Linked DNA regions of Homo sapiens. The protein of the gene in region 2 interacts with the protein of the main gene of each other region in a pairwise test. Each region holds a gene or a part of one and is shown on either strand. Other genes may lie near its edges.

What was found. The genes of interacting proteins can lie anywhere in the genome.
Region 1: the proteins of NRBP1 (region 2) and SORBS3 interact in binary tests that used the Homo sapiens proteins (3 or more experiments, as listed by UniProt).

Annotation. Positions count from the first base shown.
Region 1 is NC_000008.11:22,554,497-22,562,387, forward strand, and holds part of SORBS3 (vinexin), read left to right. Parts: coding exon of another isoform or gene 1-10; coding exon 11-112; intron 113-366; coding exon 367-484; intron 485-2,218; coding exon 2,219-2,412; intron 2,413-3,632; coding exon 3,633-3,696; intron 3,697-6,838; coding exon 6,839-6,877; intron 6,878-7,368; coding exon 7,369-7,435; intron 7,436-7,891. UniProt on the Homo sapiens protein: Vinexin alpha isoform promotes up-regulation of actin stress fiber formation. Vinexin beta isoform plays a role in cell spreading and enhances the activation of JNK/SAPK in response to EGF stimulation by using its third SH3 domain.
Region 2 is NC_000002.12:27,423,670-27,432,306, reverse strand, and holds the start of NRBP1 (nuclear receptor-binding protein), read right to left. Parts: upstream 3,677-8,637; 5' UTR 3,576-3,676; intron 1-3,575. UniProt on the Homo sapiens protein: Required for embryonic development. Plays a role in intestinal epithelial cell fate and proliferation, thereby involved in the architectural development of the intestine potentially via the regulation of Wnt-responsive genes.

The sequences.
Region 1 (7,891 bases), on a different chromosome or scaffold from region 2:
TGACCCAAGCATGCAGGGCCCACCCCGCAGCCTCCGCGCTGGGCTCAGCCTGGACGACTTCATCCCTGGCCACCTCCAGTCCCACATAGGGTCTTCCTCCCGGGGGACACGGGTGAGTGAGTCAGTAGGGAGGAGGGTGTCCTGCGGGCCCGGAGTTGGTTGGGACGCTAGCAGGTCAGGTGGGGGCAGGAGGATGAAAGGGATGGAGGGAGGGCTGAAGAGAGCTCTGGGGGGCCTCGCTGGTTTCCCACAAAATCGTCAGGCGGGCCTGGGACTGTCACCGAGGGGTGTGGGCTGTGCCTAGTAGCCATCCCTCCCTCCCGCCCTGCTGGGCCCTGAGCTGCCGCTCCTGGCCCCTCCCCGCAGGTGCCCGTGATCCGGAATGGTGGCTCCAACACCCTTAATTTCCAGTTCCACGACCCCGCGCCCAGGACTGTGTGCAATGGGGGCTACACACCAAGACGAGATGCTTCCCAGCACCCGGGTAGGTCTGCTCAGGAGCCTCATGCTGGAGATGGAGGGTCAGGGCCCTGCCATCTGGCACTGCCCTGTGTCAAGCGGGAGGGGCAGCAGCTGGAGATGGGGTTCTCAAGGCCATGAGGAGGTTCCTCAGAGGCCTCTGGGCTCACTATGAGCCCCTCCCTGCGGAGCCTGCTGACTCTGCAAGAGACACCCGCTTGGGGAGAGCAGGCTGATGCATCCCTTCCCCTGCCCTCCAGCCTGGTGCCAGGGAAAGGAAGCGTGCAGGAGCCCTGGGCGCCGGAGGACCTCCCACAGGGACTGGGGATGGAAGGGTGGAGGTGATGTGGGTATCTGTTGGCTTGGGAAGGGGTGGAGACTGTCCCATTCAGGCCCAACAGGCTACCCAGCAGGAGGTTAGAGAGGCAGTTCTAGATCCCAGTCCAGAGGTCCTGGGAACTCCTGGGTGCAGGCCAGCCCTGAACATGTCTCTCCTAAAGTGACATCCTTTATCAAGCATTCCCCTAAGACAGGTGCTGTGTAAAGGAATTTATTCATTTAACAATTATCCAGCCTGGGCAACATAGCAAGACCCTGTCTCTATCAGCCTGGATGACACAGCAAGACCCTGTCACTTAAAACACACACACACTGAGAGGCTGAGGTGTGTGGATGACCTGAGGTCAGGAGTTCGAGACCAGCCTGGCCAACATGGTGAAACCCCATCTCTAATAAAAATACAAAAATTTGCTGGGTGTGGTGGCGGGTGCCTGAAATCCCAGCTACTTGGGAGGTTGAGGCAGGAGAATCACTTGAACCTGGGAGGTGGAGGTTGCAGTGAGCTGAGATCGTGCCACTGCACTCCAGCCTGGGCAACAAGAGCAAAACTGTCTCAAAACAAAAACAAAAACAAAACAAAACCAAAAAAAACACCCACACAATTATGGAACACCCAGAGCGTGCTGGACACTGTAAAAACACTTTACGAGGCTCACCTCGTTTAACCCCTCGATATCCTGACAAAGTAGGGGTGATGATGACTGACAGCTTCCCAGTAAGGAACCCCATTCGCAGAGATGTTCAGCCATAGAGGCTGAGCTGCAATTCACACACTTGTACATCTGGCCTCAAAGCCCTTATTCTGCTGCCCTAGCTACTTAGAGGCTAACACTTATGGGTAAGTTGAGGACTCAGTCACAACCATGTCTGGGGAATGGGTTTCTGACCTTCACTGAGAGCCTCTCGACTGTGTGCCAGGCACTGTGCTGGGTACAGTCACACACGCTAGATGTCACTGAATCCTTGTCACAATGACCCTTGTTTTACAGAAGTGGAAACTGAGACACTGAGAAGGTGACTGATGTACCCCAGGCCATGGCAGCCAATAGGTGGTAGAGCTGGGGTCTGAATTCAAGTCTGTCCCCTCTAAGCCCAGCATCTTTACTGCCACACCCCAGCTGGGATGTCCCCTGCATTCTCTACAAGTAATGATTTCCAGACCTTATTCTGAAAGCACTTAGGATAGTCCCAGGAAAGAAGGATGGGGGTAGGGCCAGGCACGGCATTCTCAAGATCAAATCCATTTAAATTCACTTAAACAAACAGAGGCCCGTGGTGCTCTGAGTCATCCACTCAAACAAACAAGGCGATGTTGAAACTTTGAACCCACAGAGATCCATGCTCTGAGGAGCTAAGGGACACACAGGTTCAGGTGGAGACCCCTGCCTTTCACTAATGCTCTCCTGCACGCACCCAACAGACCCTGCGTGGTATCAGACCTGGCCAGGCCCTGGGAGCAAGCCCTCTGCAAGCACAAAGATCCCTGCCTCCCAGCACACCCAGAACTGGTCAGCCACGTGGACCAAGGACAGCAAGCGTCGGGACAAGCGCTGGGTCAAGTACGAGGGAATCGGGCCCGTGGACGAGAGCGGCATGCCCATTGCCCCCCGATCCGTGAGTCCAGGGCTGGGGGCCACGGAGAGATGGGGCCCAGGGATCTACAGGGAGCTGCACTTCTGTGCATTAAAATGGGGGTGGGGCAATAAAGGCCGCACCCAAACCATCCCAGATTAAGCAGGGGTTCAACCGTGGTGGGGTTCAGCGGCTGTAAACCTCATAAAGCTGCAGACACCCTCGTGTGCCTGAGTTGCTCAAGTGGTTTGTGCGGGGTACAGATCTAGAACTCTCATCAGGGCCTCAAAGGTAGAGAACCCCTGCTGTAAGGCCTGAGGCTGCAGGGGACCCTCTCTTAGTTTCATATCCCCAGGGCCTGTCACGACGCTCATGAAATGGTTGCTGAATGAATGACTGACCGGCCGAATGAGTGAGTGAGTCTTGTGTGAGAAGGTCTCTCACTGTGGCAAGCGTGGAAGGATCCGGGGGTCCAGTTAGGACTGGGGATACCCTGCCCTTTTCCATCCACCTTTGTGTCTTGAGCCAGCTCCATTTTCTCATCTGGAAATTGGAGCTGGTAACATTCCCTTCCTGTTTTGAGGCTGTTTTGAGGCTTGGATGAAGCAGGTGATGTGAAACACGCATCTCACTCCTACATTATTGCTGTCATTTTTGGCCCAGGTGCAGTGACTCACGCCTGTAATCCCAGCACTTTGGGAGGTCAAGGCGGGAGGATTGCTTGAAACCAAGAGTTCCAGACCAGCCTGGGCAACATAGTGAGACCCTGTCTCTATAAAAAAAAAAATAAAATAAAATTAGCTAGGCAAGGTGGTGCACGACTGTAGTTCCAGCTACTCAGGAGGCTGAGGCAGGATGATTGCTTGAGCCCAGGAATTGGAGGCTGCAGTGAGCTATGATCATGCCACTGCACTCCAGCCTGTGTGACACAGGAGACCCTGTCTCCCCACAAAAGAAAAATGTTCTTTGTAGAAACACTAGACATAAAGAAAAGCAAAGAGAAAAAATGTAAATTGCCCCAAATCTCATAACATCATTATTGCATACACTTCGATGGAGATCTTGTCATATATCTTACTTATATAGGACGTGTTACATGAAGCTATTGTTATTAAAGAGATCGCAAGAGAAGCATTTCCCAGCCCACCTATGGGGGGTTCAGGGATGGCCAGAGAAGGGACTCACTAGGGAAAGATTTTTGTGGCTTGAAATTGGGAGGGTGAATAAGCAGGGAGGACTGACTTTGCATTTTCTGATCCCAGAGCGTTGACAGACCCAGAGACTGGTACCGGAGAATGTTCCAGCAGATTCACCGGAAAATGCCAGGTAAGATACCCTTCCAGGGCCCTCTCCCTGCCAAAGTGGATTCTGGCCCCTGGGGCTTGGAGAGACAGGGAAAGAAAAGGGGACTTAGCTGCTCAAGGGGTTCTTCTCCACCTTCTCCCAGGCTCTAATGAGTAGTCCTGAAAATAGGCAGTCCCCTCCCTGTACTCGGGGCCAGCAGCGGTCTCCAGAGCATCCCCAAGAAGAACATTGACCAGCCACTGTCCCACAGTGTCCTCTGAGGGGACTGAGAAGCCATTCCTTTCCTTAAGTCCCTCTCTGATTTCCCTGCCAAGCTGGAATGCCACTGTTAGCGGTCATTCCCTTACTGGAGGCATTGCTTTCTTCCACAACTCAAAATGCAGCCAACCCTGGGGGTGCCTATGAGCTGGCTCCGAGGTCACCCATCCATTCAGTGAGTCCTTGACCATCTATTGAGCATGTACCACATGCTGAGCACTATTCTAGGTGCCAAAGATCAAAGGAAGTCACACAATAAACAGACACACCTTTGACATGACAGATGGTGGAAAGGGCTAGGGAAAAATAAAGCCAGACTGGGAGAGTGCCCCATGCAGGGAGGCTGCTCCTTCACCCAGGAGCGGCCAGGAAGGTCATTTGTAAGCGGTGTTTGATCAGACCATGGAGGGAGTGAAGGAGTCGGCCTGGCAGAGCTGGGGGAAGCATTCCAGCAAAGGGAGCTCCGAAGACCCAGAGGTAGAAGCATGTTCTGGACGGGCAAGGAGAGCCTGGCCTGGAGCGAGGAGCATGTGGTGGGAGATGGAGTCAGAGAGGTGGTGGTGTCAGGGTACGTGGGGCCTTGTGGGCCATTATAAGGACTTCAGCTTTTACGGTGCAAATAAGGAGGAGCCACTGAGCGGAAGAGTGCCATGCTCTGACAAGTAATGGCTGAAAAGATTGTGCCTGGCTGTGGGGTGGGAAAGGAATGGTGGAACCAGTTCCCTTGCCTGGTAAGGGCTAGGGAGAAAAGGCCACCTTTACAACTTTGCTTCAATCCAGGGGAGAGATAATCGTGTGTTAGACCAGGGCGGTAGCAGTGGCCCTGGTGGGACAGGATGAGACTCTGAATACACTGCAGTCACTGGAATTTGCTGATGGATTGGACGTGGCTTGGAAGAGAGAGTCAAGGATGGTTTTAAACCTCAGCAAGTTGAAGATTGGAGTTGCCATTTGTCAAAACAGAAAAGACTGTAGGAGTAGCATTCACAGGCCGGGCGCGGTGGCTCACGCCTGTAATCCTAGCACTTTGGGAGGCCAAGGTGGGTGGATTGCCTGAGCTTAGGAGTTCGAGACCAGCCTGGGCAACATGGTGAAACCCCATCTCTACTAAAAAATACAAAAAAGTAGCTGGATGTGGCGGCATGCACCTGTAATCCCAGCTACTCGAGAAGCTGAGGCAGGAGAATTGCTTGAACCTGGGAGGCGGAGGTTGCAGTGAGCTGAGACCATTCCACTGCACTCCAGCCTGGGCAATAGAGCAAGACGCTGTCTCTAAAAAAAAAAAGAAAAAAAGAAAAGAGGTGTTCAGTTTTAGACACATGTTCCCTCTGAGTGAAGAGGTTGAGTAAGCAGATGAATATCCAAGTCTGCAGTTCACGGGACAAGGTCTAAAACTGCAGATGGAAATACCTGGGACTCATTCAAAAGAGATTTTGGGACCAGCCTGGCCAACATGGCGAAACCCTGTCTCTATCAAATATACCAAAATTAGTTGGGCATGGTGGTGTGCACCTGTAATCCTAGCTACTCCAGAGGCTGAGGCAGGAGAATTGCTTGAACCTGAGAGGCAGAGGTTGCAGTGAGCTGAGATCACCCCACTGCACTCCAGCCTGGGTGACTCAGTCTCAAAAAAAAAAAAAAAAGAAGAGAGAGATTTTGATTTAAAGTTTCCCCAGTAATTCTAGTGGGGAAACTTTAAACTTTTAACTAGCAGCCAAGATTGTGAAACATGGGAATAGATGGCGTTTTAAAAGCCTTAAGACTAGCTGGGTGTGGTGGCACACACCTGCAGTCTCAGCTATTTGGCAGGCTGAGGAGTTCAATTCAATTCCTGGGAGCCCAGGAATTCAAGTCCAGCTTGGGCAACATAGCATGATCCCGTCTCTGAAAAACAACAATCCATAAGACTAGACAAGATCACCTAGGGAGATAGAGAGACAAACAGACCCCAGGACTGAGCCCCCACGCACCTGGATGCTTAGAAGTTTGAGAGATGAGGCGGAACCAAAAAGGCAACTGAGAAGGTAGAGCCAGGGAGGTAGGAGGAAAACGGAGAGATCTCCCTGGGGCCAAGTGGAAAGGGAATTCCAAAAGAAAAATGTGACCAGTGGTGACAAATGCAGCTGATGGGTTGAGTAAGATGAATACTTAGAATTGACTGTCAGATTTGGCAACGTGGAGGTCACCAGCATCCTTGATAAGAGTGAGTGGTTGGGCAGTGGTGAGCAAAAGCCTGTTTAGGGAGACGGGGAGTAGGGGGATTGGAGATGGTGTGGTCTTTATGGTCACTGGTTACAGTTTACTATGGGGGAAAGCAGACAAATCCAGGAGTCAGAGGAGGGTGTGGGGTCCAGTGAGGGGTGATGTGGCTGGCGTTTAGGCAGGTGCCGTTGCAGCGCATGCGTGTGTGTGTGTGTGTGTGTGTGTGTGTGTGTGTGTGTGTGCGCGCGCGCACGCGCCGTGGGGAGCAGTGGGTCAGTAGCTCTTTCCAGGAAGCCCCAGAAATTCCCAGGCACCTTGAGGAGCTAGGAGTGGGTCTTGGCAAATGGGGAAGGAAAGCGTTTGGAAGAGGGTGCAAGTCGAGTTTCCCCAGCCTGAGTGGTGAGGGCAAGTCCACAAAGGTCAGGAGAGGGTGTGTGTGGGAACAGGGAGGGAGGAGCAGGAGGGCTTGGGCAAGGCGGCTGCCCGCTTGGCTCGCTTAGGCCCCAAGCCTGCCAGAGGCATTTCAAGCCCTCCAGAGAGCTGCCCTCCTAATTCCTTCCCTCCCTTGGGACATTCTTCAGGCCCTGACTCAGCCCTCAGCCCCCTACTCTAGGGATGTTGGGAGCGGCTGAGGTTGCCTCCCAGGGCACCCTGCCCTTGCTTTCTGCCCCGTCCCATGACCTGGTCCCTTCTGCTCCTGCAGACTTGCAGCTGGACTGGACCTTCGAGGAGCCACCCAGAGGTGAGGGGATGCGGGCCCACCTGCCTGCCATAGCCCTGCGCCTGCGTCCGCCCCTCCCTGGGGCTGGGACTCGCAGCCCCGCCTGGCTTTGGGGCTCTCCAGTTGGCTCAGTTCAACCTGAGAGGTTTTTATAGCTCATTTCCAGAGCACTTCAAATCCCCCGGTAGGTGGTAATTAACAGCCTCAGCTTGCACGGGGAACGCGCGCTCTGCCACTCCCTGGCCGGGATTTCTCTGGGCCTCCCTTTCCTCATCTATAAGATGAGATCATCACCTACTCGGAGTTGTTTTGAAGATGTAGTAAATGTCGTAAAGCTCTGAGGGCAATGCCCGCGTTCAGTGTCCCTGAGCACCAACCACCCTGCCCCCACCATCCACCCAGGAGCAAGGGGGTGGTGCTGAAACTCTAAATAATCACCCAGGCACCCTCAGCCCCAGTCACGGCCTGTCTCCTCCCACCTTCAATGCTTTCCTCGTGTACCTCCTCTGCAGACCCCAGGCATCTAGGAGCCCAGCAAAGACCTGCCCACAGGCCCGGCCCGGCAACATCTTCCAGTGGGTGAGCACAGTGGGGCGGGGCCGAGGGCTGCGGAGGGGCGCGGCCCGCGAGACACCATGGGACGGGCGCCCCCTCGTGACCACAGCCGGCACAGCCTCGGAGCCCAGCCAGGAGTGGGGTCTCACTTCCGTGTCCGTCTGGGCTCTGTCCCATCTCTGGGTCTCCACCACCCCCATAGACTCTCTTCCCTACAGGGTCAAGGGGGGAAGGGTAGGCAAGAGTGGACCTGGCACCCGCTCCTGGCCAGGAACGCCTGTGATGCGTTTGTGGTCAGCAGCAGGAACTCTTTGCCCCAAAGATCCCACCGGTCTTATGAGACCGGGAGTGGGGCGGCCAGGACAGCCGTGGACAGAACTGTTGAGGGGAACTTGGACCTGGCGCTGTCCACTTTGAAACCTGAGAGAAAACAAGGGATATGGAAGAACCCAAGTTCCAGCCTGATAGCACAGAGAGAGG
Region 2 (8,637 bases):
CAAGATTTATGGCAGTCTAATCCCACTTAGAGTAAGGTTCAAATCACCAGCAAAATCAGGTGCTCCATTCCTTCTTGGCAAATACTCATCCAATAGGCTTCCCTTTGAATCCCCAAGTACACCCTATTTTTACTGTGCTCAAGAATTAAGCTATGTGTGGACGGGCACAGTGGCTCACGCCTTTAATCCCAACACTTTGGGAGGCCGAGGTAGGTGGATTACCTGAGGTCAGGAGTTCGAGACCAGCCTGACCAACATGGCAAAACCCTGTCTCTACTAAAAATAAAAAAATTAGCTGGGTGTGGTGGCACGCACCTGTAGTCCCAGCTACTCAGGAGGCTGAGGCAGGAGAATCACTTGAACCCGGGAGGCAGAGGTTGCAGTGAGCTGAGATCGTGCCACTGCACTCCAGCTTGGGCAACAGAGTGAGACTCTGTCTCAAAAAATAAAAAAATATAAACTATGTGGGCGCTATTCAGAACAGATGACTCCAGACTCCAAAATGTTTCAGTGAGACAGCCTTAAGGCTAGACCTGTAGCACCCTCAGCCAACTTATCCAGCTGAAACCCTTGGCTAATTTATCCAGCTAGAACTAACCTTGGCATTCACTATCCATCCCTTCTCTACACAGAACAAGCCCACTAGTCCATGGTGAGGCTACCCTTGGGGCACATGACTGGCAGTTGTTAGTGACTTCATCCCTGATGACCTCACCTTTCCTGTGATGTGAGTGTGACAAATGGGTATTGGTTAACAACATTTTTTTTTTCATTCACTCATTTAACAGATGTTTTATTAAGCATTTATTGTGGGCCAAGCACTGGGCTAAGTCCTTGAGATACAATAACAAACAAAATAAATGCCCACATTCAAGCAGCCACAAATTCAAGCCAGAGCTAAGACTTTAAGCTTCCAGCTTTCATTTCATTCACATTGCTCAAAGGCTCTGAAGTTTCCATTCTCTGGGGGACTAGATCTGATATAGGTTATTTATTTTTTGGCAGAGGGGATGGAGTCTCACTCTGTCACCCAGGCTGGAGTGCCGTGGTGCAATCTCGGCTCACTGCAACCTCCGCCTCCCAGGTTCAAGCGATTCTCCTGCCTCAGCCTCCCGAGTAGCTGGGACTACGGGCACGTGCCACCACACCCAGCTAATTTTTTGTATTTTTAGTAGAGATGGGGTTTCACCGTGTTAGCCAGGATGGTTTCAATCTCCTGACTTCATGATCCGCCCGCCTCAGCCTCCCAAAGTGCTGGGATTACAGGCGTGAGCCACCACACCCAGCCTAGGTTATTTCTTACAAGTATAAATAACTCAAGGTACAACTTTTATAGGAAAAAGTATTATACAGCATAACATTTTCAGGGTCATGGGTACTTGAAGAAAAAGAATTATTGAGAGCTAAATGCCATTAACTTGTACAAAAAGTCACAAGACAACCACTTAATGTTATTTCATATCTCTAAGAATAAAGACTGTGAAGGAGTTGGAACCTGTGTGTGCTCAGCTCAAGAGAGTTCTCTACAGTATGAAAGAGATACCCTGGGCCAGGCAAGCTGGCCCACGCCTGTAATCCCAGCACTTTGGGAGATGGTGGCAGGCAGATTGCTTGAGCTCAAGAGTTCGAGACCAGCCTGGGCAACAAAAAAATACAAAAATATACAAAAATTAGCAGGGTGTGGTGGCGCACGTCTATAATTCCAGCTTATTCAAGAGGCTGAAGCACGAGAATCACTTGAACTCAGGAGGCGGAGGTTGCAGTGAGCCCAGATGGCGCCACTGCACTCCAGCCTGGGTGACAGAGTGAGACTATGACTCAAAAAAAAAAAAAAAAAGAAAAAAAGAAAGAAAAGAAAAAGAAACTGATACCCTGGAAACTAAATGTGCTCCTCTAAGTTCAGAAGTCTCCAGTCAACACACCAATCTTTTGAAAAGCCCACATTTATTTTTAGAACTCTCTGATGCCCATTTGTGCCCATCTCTGCCCCCAATCTACACTACGTTTAACTCAACTCAGGAGATTTTTATTAGAAGACAGTCTAGTAAATACCAAAGAGCAATAGGCAGTACAGAGGAAATCTGGCAAGATATTCTTTCCCTATGTTATTTTCTAGATCCTGACTTATTCTAGAGAGATTTGCCAGGCGCGCTGGCTCATGCCTGTAATCCCAGCTACTTAGGAGGCTGAAGTGGGAGGATCGCTGGAGAGGGATTTAACTCAGCCAGCCAGGAAAGCTACTATCTGCCTGTTTTAGTAATCTACCAGAAAACTTCTGTTAGAGATCATGTTCCTTCTTCTGAAAAGTAGCTAAGAAAATGGTAAGACACTATTAGTTACTTCCTTGAGCAGCTGCATTCACTGAATGCATCTAAAATCTGAACAACTAAATAAAATTCCCAGCCAGACTACAGTAGGAAATAACAGTAGAATTCTAATACAGGAAAGCTGTAGCCAATGGGCTCCAGAGAAACTTCTGGACCGAGGACACAAATAACTAATCCACAGTAGGGCACCACAGGAGACACCAACCCTTCATCAGAGATAGATGCCCTTGGAATTTGCTTATCCCCCCCACCTTCCTAATTTTTGTGACTTTTTATCCCTTCCTAATTTTTCCTTCGCAGGCAAAATGAGGGCAGTGCCCAAGATTCTCCAGCACTACTCCTATTGATGAAGAAACCTCTGCGACACTGGGAGTTTTGTCTCGGAGCCGCTGAGAGGTTTTAAAGAGATAACACATGGAAAAGCTCATATACTCCCATAAGGGGATTCTCGCCGCCTCCAGCCACCCTGAGACATGCAGTGTGTTCACTTTGGAGTAATGCAGATCGCCCTGCAAAGTTTTTCCCCGACACTTTCGTTTATTGGACAGCAGCCCCTCTGCGTGTCAACTCCTCTGCAAGAGCTCACGGGCCCAGGCCTCTCAGCTGTCCTCACCCTGAACGGACCAGAGGGCCTCTGAGACCCGCAGCACAGTCCAGTCGGAAATAAAACCGCTCTGGGGAGGAACCCGGCCCCTAGAATTTCACACTCCAACAGGTCGCATGCCCTGCGTCTGGAAGGCAGCCGCGGCCCGCGCGGGAACCAGGCTGGGGCCCAGGGAGCCAGCGGCGGCCACCTCATCAAAGGCCGGACCGACAGCGCAGTCAGGGGCGCAGGCCACGCCCCCGCGCAGTCTGCGCACCTCCCCGCGAGCAGGCCAGGCCAGGCCGCCGAGCTTCCGCAGGCCGCCGGGCCGCGACCGCCGCCCCCGCCCCCGCCCCCACCCGCCGGGCCCCGCCTCTCGCAGCCGGAGTTCCAAGCGAACGCCAGGGCCTCCCGACCCGCGCCCGCAGAATCCCGGGGCGCCGCCGCCAAGCCAGAGACGCCAGGGAGGGCTAAGCAGCGACTGCGGGGCCGAAGCGGCCCCTCGGCTCCAGCAGGCAGGGCCCGATCGGGCCTGGGCTACTGAGTGAGCAGGGCCGCCTTCAGCACCCGACTGGCGGGTCCCACCGTCCCGGGCCTCGGAGGCCGATCCTTCCGTCCTCTCGCGAACCCCTCCCTCCCGGGCCCTCTTTTCCCTGGGCGCTCACCTCCCGACTCCGCGCCCCGCAGCCTGCGCTTCAGCTCCAGCTCGGGTTCCGGGGCCCCGGATCACAGCGACTCCCTCACAGCTGCGCTCCGCAGCGCAACCGAACTGCGGGCCCCGCCCTCGCGGCGCCCGGACCAACGATGGGCGGTGCCGCACCGCCGGCAGGTTTCCATTGGGTGACGTTCTGGGTGGGCGGGGCCCGGCCCTCGGGCGTTCGCTGGGGTGGGCTTCCACCCGCTCTCCTCCCCTTGCGCCGGTCCGGCCGAGACCTCTCGGAGGGGTCGATGTTTTCGGTCCCAGCTGGGGCTCGTCTCTCTGTCCACCCCACCGCCCGGTCCAGGTGCCCCAGATGGTTCTGCTGGACGCAGAGAGGGCCTCCTACCTCTTCTTGAAGGCGCCATGACAGTTCTAATGCCTGGAAAAGACAAAAGGAGCGAAAGACATAGCCTCAGTCCGAGAGGAGCGCCCCCACCCCAGCCCCCGCCTGCATTATTTTGGAACGAGACTGGTGTGCAGGACGCCAATTCTCCGGAAAGCTTTTAAAATTTACCTAACACTGAAAATTAGTAGTTAACGCTTGGTGATTGCTTAGCACTATTTGCTTAAACTTTGTAAGAGGTTTTCACAGATGTTATTTCATTTGATCCTCATAAGAACGAACTCATTGAAATTATCATTCAATGGTAGTTGACAAATGCAAAAACCTGAATCAGAGGTATTAAGCTATTAACCGAAAGTTAAGTTGGTAAGAGCCAAGTCTAGAATCCGAAACAGTAAATTTCATCAAAGGAGACTACGTTGAGAAGATGTTTGGAAAGAATTTAGATTGGTTTCGAGTTAGTGGAAAGAAAAGATGATAAATTCTTGGTGAGCTATTAATCTGCGAAAACTAAGCGCGGAGCCTTCAGGATGGAAGTTCACTCTGCCCTTAGACGTGTATGATGGAGGGAAGATGATGAATCAATCAACAGAACTTGGAAATGTCACAATCACCAAATTTTACTGTCATTAAAGAGAATCTCTAATCCTGTTTCACTGGGAGAAAGGACAACTGGCAGAAACCCTCTCGTTTTCTCATCATCTCAAAATACTCGTTTTTAAAACCAATCTTTCGGCCGGGCGCGGTGGCTCACGCCCAGCACTTTGGGAGGCCGAGGTGGGCGGATCACTTGAGGTCAGGAGTTCGAGACCAGCCTGCTCAATGTAGTAAAACTCCGTCTCTACTAAAAATACAAAAATTAGCCGGGCGAGGTAGCACATGTCTGTTCTCTCAAGCTGCTTGGGAGGCTGAGGCGGGAAGATCACTTGAGCCCAGGAGGCAGAGGTTGCAGTAGGCCAAGACTGCACGACTACGCTCCAGCCTGGGCAACAGAGTGTGAGAATCCGTCTCAAAAAAAAAAAAAAAAAAAAAAAAAAAAAAATATATATATATATATATATATATATATATATATATATATATATGTATGTATGTTTTACCCTTTCTTCCTTGATTCTTCTATCTTTGGAAGAGGGGGGCTCAAACACCCTTTTTAAAATCTGATGTAACTTATGGGCCTTCTCTTGTACTTTAAAAAATGCACTTACCCAACAAATTTAGGATATAATTTCAGGAAACTGAGGTTAAGAATCTTTGCTCTGGGCTGGGCGCGATGGCTCATGCCTGTAATACCAGCACTTTGGGAGACTGAGGCGGGCGGATCATTTGAGGTCAGGAGTTCAAAACCAGCCTGGCCAGCATGGTGAAACCTCGTCTCTACTAAAAATACAAAAATTAGTCAGGCGTGCTTGTGGGCGCCTGTAATCCCAGCTACTCAGGAGGCTGAGGCAGGAGAATCACTTGAACCCGGGAGGCAGAGGTTGCTGTTAGCTGAGATCAGGCCACTGTACTCCAGCCTGGGCGACAAGAGCAAGACTCCACCTAAAAAATAAATAAATAAATAAATAAAATAATTTCTTGGTTCTAATCTCAAAGGAAAAGATTAACCTTTCCTTCCTGTGGGCTCAAAAGCAATTGGAACACCTGGCCCAGGGTAAACATTCATTAAATATCAGTTCATGTTATCATTAGAGTTTCCCATTCTCTTCTGCCTGGGGCTTTATCATTATCAACCTTCCGCTTTCAACTAGGTCCTTTCAAGTATGCATGGAGGACCCTTTGGCATCCTCTAGCTCTCATTTTTAACCCTTCATTACATTTAAAATGATCAAATACTACCTGCATTTTCACCACCTCATGTATTTATTTTTTCCTGCTTATAAAAATAATTCATGCTCATTGCCAAAAAACAACGCAAAAATATTCCCAAAACTATTTTAGTATAATGTAATATTTATATAGTAGCTTCTATGTGTTAGGCACTTTTAATTGCTTTATGACAACAATGCTGACAACAGTAATATGAATATTAACAATTTCTGTAGAAAGTGAAATCTCTTATAATCCTACTTCCCCCGATAATTAAGACTTTGGTGTATTTTTTTTTTTTTGAGGTGGAGTCTCGCTCCATTGCCCAGGCTGGAGTGCAGTGGCACGATCTTGGCTCACTGCAACCTCCACCTCCCAAGTTCAAGAGATTCTCCTGGCCTCAGCCTCCCGAATAGCTGGGACTACAGGCGTGTGCCACCATGCCTGGCTAATTTTTTGTATATTTAGTAGAGACGAGGTTTCACCGTGTTAGCCAGGATGGTCTCGATCTTCTGACCTCGTGATCTGCCCACCTTGGCCTCCCAAAGTGCTGGGATTACAGACATGAGCCACCGCGCCTGACCTTTTATTTTTATTTTTCTAAGTATATATTCACATATGTGTATATAATTTTAAATGAAAACAAGTTTATACTACATAACCTTTTTCACTTTTTTCTATGGCAATGCACATGGCCCTACTTTAATTTTTTAACCACTACTTTAATTTTTTACTTTACTTGGGTTTTTTTTTGTTGTTGTCTTTTTGTTTTGTTTTGTTTTGTTTTTGAGATGGAGTCTTGCTCTGTCGCCAGGCTGGAGTGCAGTGGCGCAGTCGTGGCTCACTGCAACCTCCGCCTCCTGGGTTCAAGCGATTCTCCTGCCTCAGCCTCCCTAGTAGCTGGGATTACAGGCACGCACCACCATGCCCAGCTAATTTTTGTATTTTTAGTAGAGATGGGGTTTCACCATGTCGGCCAGGCTGGTCTTGAACTCCTGACCTCGTGATCCGCCTGCCTCGGCCTCCCAAAGTGCTGGGATTACAGGTGTGAGCCACTGCACCCAGCCTTTTTTTTTTTTAAGACAGGAATCTCACTCCGTCACCCAGGCTGGAGTGTGGTGACTCAGTCTCGGCTAACTGCCACCTCCACCTCCCAGGTTCAAGCGATTCTCGTGCCTCAGCCTCCCAAGTAGCTGGGACTACAGGCATGTGCCACCATGCCCGACTAATTTTTATATTTTTAGTAGAGAGAGAGTTTTACCATGTTGCCGAGGCTGGTCTTGAACTTCTGAACTCGGGCAATCCGCCCGCCTTGGCCTACCAAAGTGCTAGGATTACAGGTGTGAACCACCGTGCCCGACCCTTTACTGGTTAATTTTTAACCAGCAGAATATTCCACTGTCCAAATATGCCAGCATTTAATTAGTAACTACCTGTGGACATTGGGATAACATTCATCATTTATTATTATAAATAAAGCAGCAATGAGCATTTAGCTACATATATCTTTTTTTTTTTTTTTTTTTTTTTTTTTTTTTGTGAGATGGAGTCTCACTCTGTTACCCAGGCTAGAGTTCAGTGGCACAATCTTGGCTCATTGCAACCTCTGCCTCCCAGGTTCAGGCGACTCTACTACCTCAGCCTCCTGAGTAGCTGGGATTACAAGCATGTGCCACCATCCCTGGCTGTATTTTTAGTAGAGATGGGGCATGGTGGCACACGCCTGTAATCCCAGCTACTCGGGAGGCTGAGGCAGGAGAATGGCGTGAACCCAGGAGGTGGAGCTTGCAGTGAGCCGAGATTGGGCCACTGCACTCCAGCCTGGGTGACAGAGCGAGACTGTCTCAAAAAAATTTTTAAAAAAAGGCACCTGGCCACGGTGGTTCATGCCTGTAATCCCAGTACTTTGGGAGGCCAAGGTGGAATGATCACTTGAACCCAGGAGTTTGAGACCAGCCCGGGCAACATAGTGCGACCCTGTCTCTATAAAAGAATTTTTTTGGCCGGGTGCGGTGGCTCACACCTGTAATCCCAGCACTTTGGGAGGCCGAGGCGGAAAGATCACGAGATCAGGAGATCGAGACCATCCTGGCTAATACAGTGAAAACCTGTCTCTACTAAAACCAAAAAAATTAGCTGGGCGTGGTGGCGGGCACCTGTAGTCCCAGCTACTCAGGAGGCTGAGGCAGGAGAATGGCGTCAACCCTGGAGGTGGAGGTTGCGGTGAGCTGAGATTGCGCCACTGCACTCCAGCCTGGGTGACAGAGTGAGACCGTCTCAAAAAAAAAAAAAAAAGAATTTTTTTTTGTAATTAGCCAGGCATGGTGGCATGCCCCTATAGTTCCAGCTACTTAGTAGGTTGAGGCAGGAGGATCGCTTTAGCCTAGGAGGTCAAGGTTGTGGTGAGCCGTGATTGTGCCACTACACTCCAGCCTCTGTAACAGAGCAAGAAACTCTGGTATAGAGAGAACAATGGATATAACTTTGGGTACGTTAATAGGAAGAGGAATAGAAAGTAAAGATAGAGGAGAAAAATTAAGATAATTTTTCTTAATTTAAGAAACAGAGAGAAATGAAATAAATCAGTATTATGAAAAGGAAGTGAGTAGAAAATTTTAAGAAAGAGCTGTTCAGTAATCCCGAATGCTGAAGTGATCATGGAGAATTAAGAATAAAAAAGAGCTTTGCAGTAGAAACTTATAATAAATTGAGAGTAAAATTCCAGTAGCGAGAGGATGAAATTAACATTGTAGGAGATTGGGAAGACAATAGAATTTTTCTGATGTACAAAGAGCCCTTACAAGCCAGAAAGAAAAAAAATGATCAACTCAGTAAAGAAATAAACAAAAAAACTTGAATAGGCAAGAAATTGAAG